Linked DNA regions of Homo sapiens: region 2 is linked to region 1. A link means that fine-mapping ties the variant in region 1 to the expression of a gene that starts in the linked region. Tissue or cell type: iPS cells. Region 1 holds a variant in brackets; the other region holds the start of a gene. All regions are shown on one strand. Distances are from middle to middle.

What was found. PIP is the estimated chance that this variant, and not a neighbour inherited with it, causes the effect.
Region 2: it holds the start of GFM1, and the variant in region 1 is fine-mapped to the expression of GFM1 in iPS cells (PhLiPS, PIP 0.95).

Annotation. Positions count from the first base shown.
Region 1 is chr3:158,561,013-158,569,266 of GRCh38, forward strand. MLF1-DT (MLF1 divergent transcript) reads right to left here. Exons shown (of 5, transcript NR_104147.1): 2 at 6,948-7,044; 3 at 385-493. Among named protein-coding and RNA genes, the nearest start is that of MLF1-DT, 5.9 kb to the right of the region's middle. The variant G/A (reference allele first, on the strand shown) is at 3,762.
Region 2 is chr3:158,642,432-158,647,431 of GRCh38, forward strand. GFM1 (G elongation factor mitochondrial 1) reads left to right here and starts at 2,096. Exons shown (of 18, transcript NM_024996.7): 1 at 2,096-2,284; 2 at 3,198-3,350; 3 at 3,734-3,866; 4 at 4,312-4,516. The coding sequence starts at 2,204.

The DNA of each region.
Region 1 (8,254 bases):
AAATTAATCTGTAATCTAAATATCCTGCAGAAATAAAACAACTGTCTCATGGCCCTGGAATTTTAAAATATGACCCTTCACTGATATGGTTGGTAACTGGTGTCCACTCACAAAGGCCTACTGCTAGGAGTCAGGGCACTTTGCTTCTCAGCTCTCACAACACAAGACCTGCCATCAACATAGTTTTGAGTTACACTCAAAAGGCAGTATGTGAATGTTACCAGGATCATGTGTCTCTTTCATGCCATGAAAACTCACTCTAACTAGATCATAGGCTTGCAGCCTATGGGCCAGGTTCACCGAAAGATTTGTTTGGCCTGCTATTTTCTTTTTAATTAGTTGTTAACTTTAAAAAATTAGATTTCATATACAATTCCATATTACCAGTGGGCATGAATTTCTTCAGGGCAATCATCTAGAGCTGAGTAGCAGTATTCCTTCTGCTGGAGGCAAGCCGCCTGCAGTGCCCGACTGTGCCCACCATGCCAGGTTCCTGTGAATATACAGCACAGTGATAAGAGCTAGGGTCCTCTGGCTGTGTGACCTTGAGCAAGCAGTTTTTCTTCTCTGACCTGTATCATCCTCTTATACACAATGGGCATACTTATAGTGTTTATCTCATTAGATCACCTGGGGGATTAAGGGAGTTAAAATTTGTAAAGCACTTAGAGCAGTGCTTGGCACACAGTAGAAACTCAACAAATGTTAGTTATTATTATTATTATTATTAACTCTTTTTTTGTTTGTTTGTTTGTTTGTCTGTTTGTTTGAGATGGAGTTTCGCTCTTGTTGCCCAGGCTGGAGTGCAATGGTATGATCTCGGCTCACTGCAACCTCCACCTCCCGGGTTCAAGCAATTCTCCTGCCTCAGTCTCCCAAGTAGCTGGGATTACAGGCATGCACCACCATGTCCAGCTAGTTGTTTTTTTTTTTGTTTGTTTTTTTTGTTTGTTTGTTTGTTTTTTAATCTTCAGTAGAGACGGGGTTTCTCCATTTTGGTCACGCTGGTCTCAAACTCCCAACCTCAGGTGATCTGCCCACCTCGGCCTCCCAAAGTGCTGGGATTATAGGTGTGATCCACTGTGCCTGGCATTATTATTATTATTAATTCTTATTCTCCTTATCATCTTACCTAGTTCACTTGCCTCACATTTTTACTTGTCTGATCCCTATTGGTGTTCGTGTTTTTGACTCCAACTCTAGGTAAAGCCCTACCCTCAACTGGAGGTAAAGAAGACAGCTAGTCTCCTGTGTGTTAGGCAGTGAGTGGGGCCAGCTGAGGTTATACTCAGTGATTAAGAGCCCAGATTCTACAGTCAGACAGCGTGAGTTCCAATCCCAGTTCTTCCACTTTCCAGCAATACTGCCTTTTGCAAATTAGTTAATTCTCTAAAACCTGTGTTCGCTTATGTAAAATAGTAATAAAACTGTTGTGAATTGCAGGAACAGGAAAACAGACAACACATGTTCTCACTTATAAGTGGGAGCTGAACGATAAGAACACATGGACACGTTGGGGGCAACAACACACACTGGGAGGAGGGGAGGGAGAGCATCAGGAAGAATAGCTAGTGGATGCTGGGCTTAATACCTAGGTGGTGGGTTGATTTGTGCAGCAGACCACCATGGCACACGTTTACCTATTTAACAAACCTGCACATCCTGCACATGTACCCTGGAACTTAAAGTAGGAGTTGAAGAAAAAAAAAACATGTGAATTAATGTGCCTAGTACATAGGTTTTAGCTTTTATTATTAACAACCTACAGCAGACCCCAACATTCTCCACCCCGCCCCGCCCCCACCCCGACCCCGCCCGACAACCTCTGGCCTTGGCTGTCTTATTTCTCCCAACAGGCTGCCAGTGCCATTCAGCAGTGTGAGCCTTCCTGGAGGCTGTTTCCCAGGGGAATTTCTAGGTCTTTGGGAGATATGAATTGGGAGGAAATCAGGTATAGGTTGGAGCCACTCATTCTCAATTCCCTAGCTCCCCTTTACCTTGTTACCCCAGAATATATATCACAAATGGCATTAAAACTTACATGGCCTTATAATGACTATTGTGTCCTTTCTAGCTTCTTGAAATTAAAAACAATTCTTCTGTGATTATTCCTACCATTTCAAATAGTAAAGACATCTAAGCATATGACAAAGAGATGAAGGTATTCCAGGTCCTTAATGTTTTCCAAAATAATTTACTTGTCCTCTGGACAGACTTCAATTGATTGCCTTGGCAGTGGGGCCTCCAAACTACAGTGTGAACTCTCTTCAAATCTTATCAAGGATTTAAAAATAACACTCTAGATAGCCACATTAAAGTGTTCCTGAGAACAGATGACCTCAACAGTATTTTCTGAAGAGTGCTTTCTACTATTCAACTTGTTTTAGGCTCTGTAATTCTAAGATTTTTTATTTTTTAAAAGAAGTGTTTCTAAGACAGTAGCAACTATCAAGGTGTTGACTCAATAGAAAAATCTTTCTTATAAAATTATTGTCTGTAGAAAAAAAGTTTCAGAATTTCAATGACAATAAAGATTCAAGAATAGCTGAATGTAAGTTGATTTTTAAAACTTAATCAGGAAAAACACAAGCATGATCATAGTGCCTTATTTTTTAAGCCAAAAAAAAGAACAATCAAAAAATCCATCAACAGTAGATGGGTAAATTACTTGTGGCAAATTCATATGCTAGAATACAACAAAGAAAAAGAATAAACTGCTGCTACATGCAATGACAGCAATGACAAGGATGAATTTTGCAGACATAATGTTAAGTGAAAGAAACAAATCTCAGAATAGTGGTTACCCTAGAGGGACATGGATGGGAAAGGGACACAAGGGAATTTTCTTGAGTATTGGAAATGCTTTATATCTTCAACTGGGTGTTGTTTACATAGGTTTGCACATATGTAAAAAGCTATTGAGCTATACATTGAAGTTTAGTAGACTTTACCATGTTTAAGTTATACCTCAATTTAAAACGTAAATTGTAAAGACTAAGCAAGCTTTGGATGTGGACTTTCATTCATCAACTGCACATGAATCCATTACGGGCTGTGTGGAAAGTTGGAGTTTTGTCACCAAAAAAAATTGGTATATTTGTATTTGACATTGCCATTCAAATTATTTGTCTTTAGAGTAAGAGCCTTTATTTTATTCATTGAATGATAGTTTCAGTGTTGTTTGTTTTGTTTTTCAGGAAAATTGAAAAACTTCTTTATGTACTTAAACCAAACAACCTAAGTTTGGATACTCCCAGAAGCTTTACATTTATGTAATTCCACACCATCAAGTCCTTTTTCGTTATCATGAGAGTTGGCTATGGGTGCAGTGAGAAGGGAACGGCCTTCAAAACGGTCAGGTCTGGATCAGAATTCACATTAAACCACTCACCAGCTAGAAGACCATTTATAGTTGAACCTTGCAAGCTAAAAATCATTTCCCCTACCTGAACCTCTGTGTTCGCACACACAAAATGTAAATAATGCCTCCCTCATAGCATTATTGAGAGAATTAGTTGGGATAAAAGTTTACAAAACTCTTGGTAGATACTTTGTTTCTCTTGGTTTTTTTTTTTTTTTTTTTTTTTTTTGCGATGGAGTCTTGCTCTGTCGCCCAGGCTGGAGGGCAGTGTCATGATCTCGGCTCACTGCAACCTCCGCCACCCGGGTTCAAGCGATTCTTCTCCCTCAGCCTCCCAAGTAGCTGGGACTACAGGCATGCGCCACCATACTCGGCTAATTTTTGTATTTTTAGTAGAGAC[G/A]GGGTTTCACCCTATTGTTGGCCAGGCTAGTCTCGAACTCCTGACCTTGTGATCCGCCCAACTCGGCCTCCCAAAGTGCTGGGACTATAGGCATGAGCCACCGCGCTCAGCCCAGTAGATACTTTTTAAACAGGAACTATTACTGAATAGAAATTAGCACTTATCTAAATCATTATTTTATTTCATTTATTCTTTTCAACTTTTATGTTCGTGGGGTACATGTTTGTTACATGGATAAATTGTGTGTCACAGGGGTTTGTTGTACAAATTATTTTATCTCCCAGGTAATAAGCATAGTATCCAGTAGGTACTCACCCTCCTTCCACCTTCCCACCTCAAGTGGGCCCCAGTGTCTATTGTTCTCTTGTGTCCACGTTTATTTCATGTTTAGCTCCCACTTATAAGTGAGAACATGCAGTATTTGATTTTCTCTTCCTACATTAATCACCTTAGGATAATGACCTCCAGCTGGATTCATGTTGCTGCAAAGGACGTCACCTCATTCTTTTTTATGGCTGTGTAGTATTCCATTGTGTATATGTACCAAATTTTCTTTATCTAGTCCATCATTTATGGGTATTTAGGCTGAGTCCATGTTTTTGCTACTGTAAATAGTGCTGCAATGAACATACATGTGTATGTGTCTTTATGGTAGAAAGTAAAGGATTAGGCCGGGCGCGGTGGCTCACGCCTGTAATCCCAGCACTTTGGGAGGCCAAGGCGGGCGGATCACGAGGTCAGGAGATCGAGACCATCCTGGCTAACACGATGAAACCCCGTCTCTACCAAAAAATACAAAAAAAGTTAGGCGGGCACGGTGGCGGGCGCCTGTAGTCCCAGCTACTCGGGAGGCTGAGGCAGGGAACCCGGGAGGCGGAGCTTGCAGTGAGCCGAGATCGCGCCACTGCACTCCAGCCTAGGTGACACAGTGAGACTCCACCCCAAAAAAAACAAAACAAAAAAAGAAAGTAAAGGATTATTTTTAAAAGATTATGAAATACATCCCTAAGTAACCAAGCCTCAAAGATGTACATCAAAGAAATGAGGGAAAGGCCAAAACTTTTGCTTATGCTTATTAAACACTATAATCTTTGGCTCAGCCCTGACCCAATAGCGGATCTTGATTTCCTCTCCAGATTTTTCTGTCATCCTCACCCACTCTGCCCATCCATCACTGAAACAGAACATTCCTCTGCTTACATACACCCTCACTACCACCTGAATTCTTACATACTCCCTCACTACCACCTGAATTCTAGGACCCAAGTCCAGGGCCCAGAGCCCCAGCTTCTTGCCTCTAGTATCTTTTCACTAAAGCCAATCTCTTGTTACCAACCCCCCAAAAGTGGTATTTACTCAACAGTTTTCAAAATAAAATATGCCTCAATTATAATTTGTGCAAAATAAACCACTAGTCATAGGCATACACATCTACAGATAAAAGCTGTAAAAGTAAATATAACTTTAAAAGTCTGCCACTTTTTTCCTTTGTTAACTCAATTCTTCGTTAAATTTTTACTTCGCTGGAGGAAATATTTGCTCTAGAGAGTGTATTTCTTAAAAGGAGAGGACTGCTATTGGTATTTAGGGAAGGACGATTCATTGTGCCAGACCGTGCCACACATAGTGAGATGTTTAGTACCCTTGGCCCTACCCAGTGAGGGCAATAAAGATGACTTCAGGAATGCAGCATGGCTAGCAACCAACTACACCTTGGCATTGTCTCCGTGGAAGAGGAAATGGGAGTGACTCCCAGTGGAATGTAAGCCCAGAAGATAAATTAAGGTTGATTGCAGGAAAATAAAATTACATTTCTTGCACATGAGTTTGGGAGTTTGGGGATGAAGCTTGGCACTCAATTAACTCCTATGTAGCGGAAAGAATTCAAGATTAGGAACAGCGCTGCCATGGACATGTATACAACACCTAAGCGAGCACCAGTCAAATCATATACATTACAGCCTTGTCTATTTATTAAGACAAATTTCTCATTAATGGAAGTATCATGAGAGGGAGGCACTTTTTCTAATTTGAGCAAAGATGCCATTATGGACTAGAGGCAGCCCTACTGGGAGTTTGAAGACCTTGGGATCTATGCTCTTACAGGTCACTTAATCGGTATGCACCATTTTCCCATCTTTCAAAAAGATATAAAGCAAAACTGTTAGAGGACTGGTAAGTCAGCTGACTGTAAAGAAGATAAACATGAAAAATAAAATGAAACATATTTTTTAGAAAAGGAATGCATGATATTTTACATTTCTTTTTAATTTGAAGAAAGATTGTGGGATTAGACAGAGGTCCCCAAACTATCTTAGTTCATGAGCCCTTAGTTCCTCAGTAATTTTTTCATTGTGCCCCCTAGGTTTAAAGAAATACTGAATAGGTCCGTTATTGTATAATTTAGATACAAACAGCGTATTTCTGACCTAAAAACTCAGTACCTTTAAAAAATAATGCACATAAATTGAAAGAAACATATTTTTGTATAATTCTTAAATAATCATACTAACAGATGGGTGCCCGCCTAGCACAGCACAATTTTTCAAACTTTAGAAACAGACTGAATGTTGCCACCAATCTTTCCTGTTCCACATTGACAGGTACTTCATTTTCATCATAGTAACTTTCAGAAACCTACCTTTCCAATGATATGACATCATCTAAAACAATGTAGTGCAATCTAATATTGAAATATGTGAACTGCCCTAAACTAGTACATTGAACAATGTCTAACACATGCCAAGTTTCTCTCAAAATTTGTCCCATAGCCCCTTGTGAGTTTGCTATGGCATCTCATTCTCAGAGGACCTCTGTGCACTGTTTAAGACAAAGGGATTAGGACAACGAAACCCTAGACACATTGAGCTTAATTGTGGTAAAGGTGTTTGTAATGGCCTAATATTCACGGCTCTGGAAAGCTATAATTAAGTTAAAAGTTCAGCACTCAAGAGCCTGTTTATTTTCTTTTGGGCACTTGAGATAATGTCTTCAGAAACATTATGAAAATTCTGAGGTGCTGTAACAGTATTTGTAAAATTAGCTGGGGAAAGAGTTGTCCACTAGGATGTAAGTTCCGAAAGGCCAGGGAGTTTTGTAACCTCAGTGTCTAGAATAATGTCTGGGATATTACTAGTCCTTAATAAGTATTTGATAAATTAATGAAAGAAACACGAAATCACTTACATATTGAAGTCTTGGTGTTTTTAATAGAGTTGCAGAGTTGGCTTGGGTTTCATCCTTTTCTCTGTTTTTCCTTAGTCAGTGTCCTTCCAAATGAAACCTAAGCAACAGTGTAGTTACAGATTATAGATGTAAAAGTGTTTACTGCAAATATTTGCTCCATAAATAGTTAATTTTTAAAATAGGGAGGCAAAGTACGGATGGTGGTGAGGATACAGGCTTTGGGGTAAGACAAATCTGGGTTTGAATTGAGTGACATCAAATTTCAATCATCAAAATTTAATCAAATTATCAACTTTCAAATCAATTATCAAAATTCAATTATCAAATTTATCTGGGTCCCAGCTTTTTTTAATGCAATTTAGGGATAAACATAATATTAGACATGGTTGCTGTAAAGGTTAAACGAGAAAACATATGTGAAGCACTTAGTGCAATCCTTGGAATATATGAAGTGTAAATGAGAGCTATTACCCTATTAGGCAATTTTCAGTTTACTTGGCTCATCTCATTCCTCACTCAGAAGGTGAGTTTTAAGGCATATGAGTAGGACTGTACATTATATACACCAGGCAAATGCTACTTTAGCACTGCCCTGGAATGCTTTTCCACTAGACATCCACTTCCTTCCTGTGGGTCTTTGCTCAAATTCCCCTTAGTGAGGCGTACACAAAACTTGCTATTTATAATTGCACCTCTCCATACTCCTTACCCTGATCAGCTTTTCTCCCTAACACTTATCACCTTACAATATACTATTTTCTATTTTGTTTATTTTGAGTCTGTCCTTACAAGAACATAAACTCCGGGAAGGCAGAGATTTTTGTCCGTTTTGTTCAATGATGCCTAAGGTCGTAGATCAGTCCCCAACACTGGGTAGTCACTCAATAAATATTTGTAGAATTGAATTTATGTGATGTGAATATATTCCCACTGAATTTTGTACTTTTTAGTTTGGGTCCATTTAGCTTGTCAGCATGATTTTGAAAAATGATTACCCGCTTTCATCCTGCATCTTTAAGTATGACTCATCACTCACATACCATATAACCAGCACTCACAGAGGAAAGCTCCAGGTACCCAGCTCAGTTCAATTACTAGCTGTGTGAACCTTGGCAATTTATTCAGCTTCTCTGTGTCTTGAATGCATCATCTATACATGGGGATAAAAGCCATCTCTACTCCATAAAACTGCTAATGAGGATTCAATGAGGTAATGCATATGGAGTGCCTACAACAGTGCCTGGCACACATTCAATAAATATTAGCTATTATGATTATATTTACAGCCAAGTCCAGGACCCTCTCCT
Region 2 (5,000 bases), 80 kb after region 1:
GCCACTGCTAATCTGACAGGAGGCAGAGCTCAGGTGGTAATACAAGTGATAAGGAGAGGGTGTAAATACAGATGAAACTTCACTCGCTCGCCCACTGCTTACCTCCTACTGTGTGGCCTGGTTCCTAACAGGCCATGGACTGATACTGGTCTCTGGCCCAGAGGTTGGGGACTCCTGTGTTAGAACATGTAGATGCCAAGTACCTGTGCCAACCACAGGTCCACCTTTGCATACTTGACCTTACCAGTATTTTATGAATATATATGTACAGCTCCCATGTTACCAGTGAAGGGTCTTGACTATGAGTCATACAGGTTCTTGGCGTTTGAACAAAGAATTGGACAAAACACATAAGCAAAGCAATGAAAGAATGGAGCAATGAAGGCACAGATGTGTTGAAACAAAAGTACACTCCACAGCTCAAGAGCACCTGTTACAGAATTTTCTGGGATTTAAATACCCTCTAGAGCGTTCCCATTGGTTACACCCTATGTAAATGAAGGAGTGGCCCATAACCAGCCTGCTTGGTTGCAGGAGGTGACCAATCAGAGGCTGAAGTGAAGTTACAAAGTTACACATGAGGACTTGGCCTGCTACCAGTCTGATTATTTGCCAGAGGGGACCAGTCAGAGGTACTTTCCATTTTTTCATCTGCAATGCAGTGCATTGGGAGTAGCCTCCGATCCTTTTGTTACTTGGGCATGGAGAGGTGGGGTTTTCCTTTTGGTTCAGCTCTAGGAAGTCAGCAGGGCCTTCGGTTCCCTGTCTCTAGACCCTGTTCTCCTGCCTCACCCATAAAGGGAATTCCCTAGAGATACTAAAGGCTGTCTGTCTCTCTTCTGAGCAGCCCACTCTGCCTCTCAGAGTGTACTTTTGGTTTACAATAAACTTTTTTGCCTACTCTTACTTTGTACTTGCTTTCAAATTCTTTTGTGTGGTGAAGTCAAGCACCTGAACCGGCCCACTGACAACAGCAAGGATAGAAGCAGTGAGATCGGTTACAAGGCTATTACAATAGTTCCCTCCAGAAACGGCAGTACTGAGAGGTGGGGAGAAGTAAGTTCTGGATTTTCTTTTTTTTTTTTTTTTTTTGAGACTCGCTCTGTCACCCAGGGTGGAGTGCAGTGGCGTGATCTCGGCTCACTGCAAGCTCCGCCTCCTGGGTTCACACCATTCTCCTGCCTCAGCCTCCCGAGTAGCTGGGACTACAGGCGCCCGCCACCGCGCCCGGCTAATTTTTTTTTGTATTTTTAGTAGAGACGGGGTTTCACTGTGTTAGCCAGGATGGTCTCCATCTCATGACCTCGTGATCTGCCCGCCTCGGCCTTCCAAAGTGCTGGGACTACAGGTGTGAGCCACCGCGTCCGGCCCTGGATGTCTTTTTGAAAGTAGAGCTTACAGGATATGCTGACTGATTAGACCGGAGATGTCACAGCATGGTGTCAAAGCGACTAATATTTTTGGCTAGAATCACTAAAGTTTACATTTATGAGATGGATAAGACTGTGGAAGGTTTGGGGAAGAAGATCCGAAGCTCAGTTTTGGACCTGTTAGGTTCAACATGCCTCTTAACACATCCAAGCAGAATGGTCAAGGATGCAGTCTTCCACATGGACAGGACATGAAATGTCTGACATCGAACAATAACAAATAACATTTTGACATGAGGAAAAGTATTTGTAATTGTAATTGATAGTTCATTCACTATAATTTGTCCACGTTCTTTTTCAGGCCATGTCATATATATACCTATTAATATTTGTAATAGACAATTTTGCTCTTTTCTACTTAAATTGTTATATACATTTCTCCACATTGCTTTATAGGCCTAACAACCATGTTTAAATTCTGTATCTTCATACAGAGGTAATATTTAAAAAAGAAGACGAAGACAAAAGGACTCCCTTCCCTCACCCATATACCTATGCCGTCTTACTGGGAGCAAACACTTCTTTAGCTCCGCAAAGCGATTGCACTTTCTCTTCCAAGTCGGCAGACGGCGCGCGAGCAGCGTAGGCACTGCTCCGCCTCCAATCCAGTTGCTCTTCTTTCTTTTCCTCACTCTCTTTTTCCTCGCGTCCTTTGCCCCGGAAGTGCTCTTACAACATTGGCTGCCGGCGTGACTTTGACCGCTTCCCGGTGCGTTACCGGCAGCTGAACCCACCCGGCGCCACGGGACTTTGACGCGTGCTCTGCGCTTGCCATGAGACTCCTGGGAGCTGCAGCCGTCGCGGCTCTGGGGCGCGGAAGGGCCCCCGCCTCCCTAGGCTGGCAGAGGAAGCAGGTACCGGAGCATAGAGAGGCTAAATCGGGACCATTCCCGGAACCTTGTGATCCCTTCTGGGCAATGGAAGGCCGTGACACCCCCTGGGTCCTCATGACTGACAGCTCCGAATACTGGCAGTCGCTCGTCAGTGCTGAAAAGCACCTCGGTGCCTGCACATTAGCTCGTTAGCTCGTTTGTTTCGCTCTCTGGTATCCCTAGGGTTTAATCAACTAAAAGTGTCTGTCACTCAGATACTTTGATATTTTATCCACCTTTTCTAAGGTTTTTTTTTTTTTTTTTTGCCTCTCTTTTCCCGTGAATAATTGTGCATTTTGGATGTGCAGTCCTATAGGGAAAGGTTTATATTGTATCTTCATTCCATCTAATAGGGATCCCCATCCCCTGCCACCAGAGTAAAGTTAAAACAAGCTTCATGAATTGTTTTTGTTTGGAGGGAATTGGAAATCTTTGGGGGCTGTCTTGGAGCTACTAGCATCACTGCATAGAGCATATAAGTTCTCAAACATATTTGTCATCTGTGAACTACAATAAAGGAGAAAGGGAAAAAAATTAAGTTAAATTTAAGCTAAAATTTGTATTTTCTATTAAAGTATTTTTTGGAGCTGTCTTTGTGATTTTATCTGCCCCAGTGTGTATTTTCAAATCTGCAGTAAAAAGTGTCTCCCATTTTAATTAAATTTAACTTATTCATTAATTAATTTTAAAAGAATACGTCTTTACTGTCTTGTTTTGAAGTCTGTCCTCTGATTACAAGAGTTCCAGGCTTAAAGGTTTCCCCTGGTGCCTTTCTCAAGCTATCTCATATCCAGTGAGATTTCTTGGAGGAATAATGTCCACCATACTCCTTTTAATTGTCTGTTGTTCTCTCTTATAAAAGGTGCATAGAATTGAGCTCTCGTATTTTTTTCAGGTTAATTGGAAGGCCTGCCGATGGTCTTCATCAGGGGTGATTCCTAATGAAAAAATACGAAATATTGGAATCTCAGCTCACATTGATTCTGGGAAAACTACATTAACAGAACGAGTCCTTTACTACACTGGCAGAATTGCAAAGATGCATGAGGTATATATTCACGGTTGATTCCGGATTAATTAGAACCAGATTTTAATTGTTTTGTTGCTATTATTTAATAAAGCTTATAAACCTGAAAGATTAAAACAATGGTAACAGCGGACTTTTGACAGTTAGGCTTATCTGAAAGTTGCTTAAGTTAAGTATCTGTGTTCTGGTTTTATTTTTATTTTTTATAGAAGAGGTCTCACTTTGTTGCTCAGGCTGGTCTCAAACTCTTGGGCTCAAATTATCATCCTGCCTCAGTCTCCCACAGTGCTGGGATTATAGGCATGAGCCACTGCACCTGGCAACTGTTTCCATTTCAGTTAAGATTTCTTTCCTTCTTGGAATGCAGGGACAGAGAAAGTCTGAATTGCTGTGCTTGTGTTTAGGTGAAAGGTAAAGATGGAGTTGGTGCTGTCATGGATTCCATGGAACTAGAGAGACAAAGAGGAATCACTATTCAGTCAGCAGCCACTTACACCATGTGGAAAGATGTCAATATTAACATTATAGATACTCCTGGTGAGTTGGATTCTTGGTTTTATTGCAGCTTCTTTGGCAAAAGCACATTTGGTTCTTTCTCTTACTGTGACCCAATTAGTTTTTGATTGTCAAATACTCAAAAGTGTAACACTGAATTCCTATTAAAGAAGACTAACTTAGGACCTAGAGCACTTCATCCTTATGTAGTTTTCTTGAAAATTTGTGCAAGTAAATTGTGAGTAGGCAGATTCTTGCCTTTTACATATTCTAGCTGATTCTAAAGGTGCCTGTGCCCTAGTATTTTCTTGAAGTGATCTTGCCAGGCCCTGCACCTAAGGGTTGGTGAATAGTATTGGTGAGCTCAGGAATCTACATTCTTATTAGAAGACTTATGTGATGAGCAGAGATACAAAAACTTCTAATAGTGCATATATTAAAAATTCAGATTGCTCTTTAAGACCCTCTCATACTTCATCTTATTCAGGGCATGTGGACTTCACAATAGAAGTGGAAAGGGCCCTGAGAGTGTTGGATGGTGCAGTCCTTGTTCTCTGTGCTGTTGGAGGGGTACAGTGCCAGACCATGACTGTCAATCGTCAGATGAAGCGCTACAACGTTCCGTTTCTAACTTTTATTAACAAATTGGACCGAATGGGCTCCAACCCAGCCAGGGCCCTGCAGCAAATGAGGTAATGAGCCTTAGAATAAACAAAGAGGATGTGATGATCTAGACAGCAAACCTTATATCCAAAAGGGTGATTAATTCACTGTCATTAAACTTTATTCTTAAATTTAGTTTTTTAAATATATTTATGTGAGTTAGTAAGTGGAACACTGATTTTAGTAAATTGGCTTGTGGTATGATCTCATCAACTACCTTATCTCTAAAATGGGGACAATATTACTTAAATTCTAGGGAGGTTGAAGATGAATTCAGAAAACAGTCTGACCGTTTATACTGTTTTGCTATTATGAGAGAAGTTATAATCTAGATTCTAAAAATACCTTGTGTTTTATTTAGACAAAAGATCATCTTTGGTTTTAATTTTTCCTTGAAGCATTTTAATTAATGCCCTTAAGTAGTTTGCCATAGAGATGAGATTTTCTTGTTTTCAGACGGAAACATATTTTCTAGGACAACAGTAACACTTCCTTTCTGTACCAGATAGAACC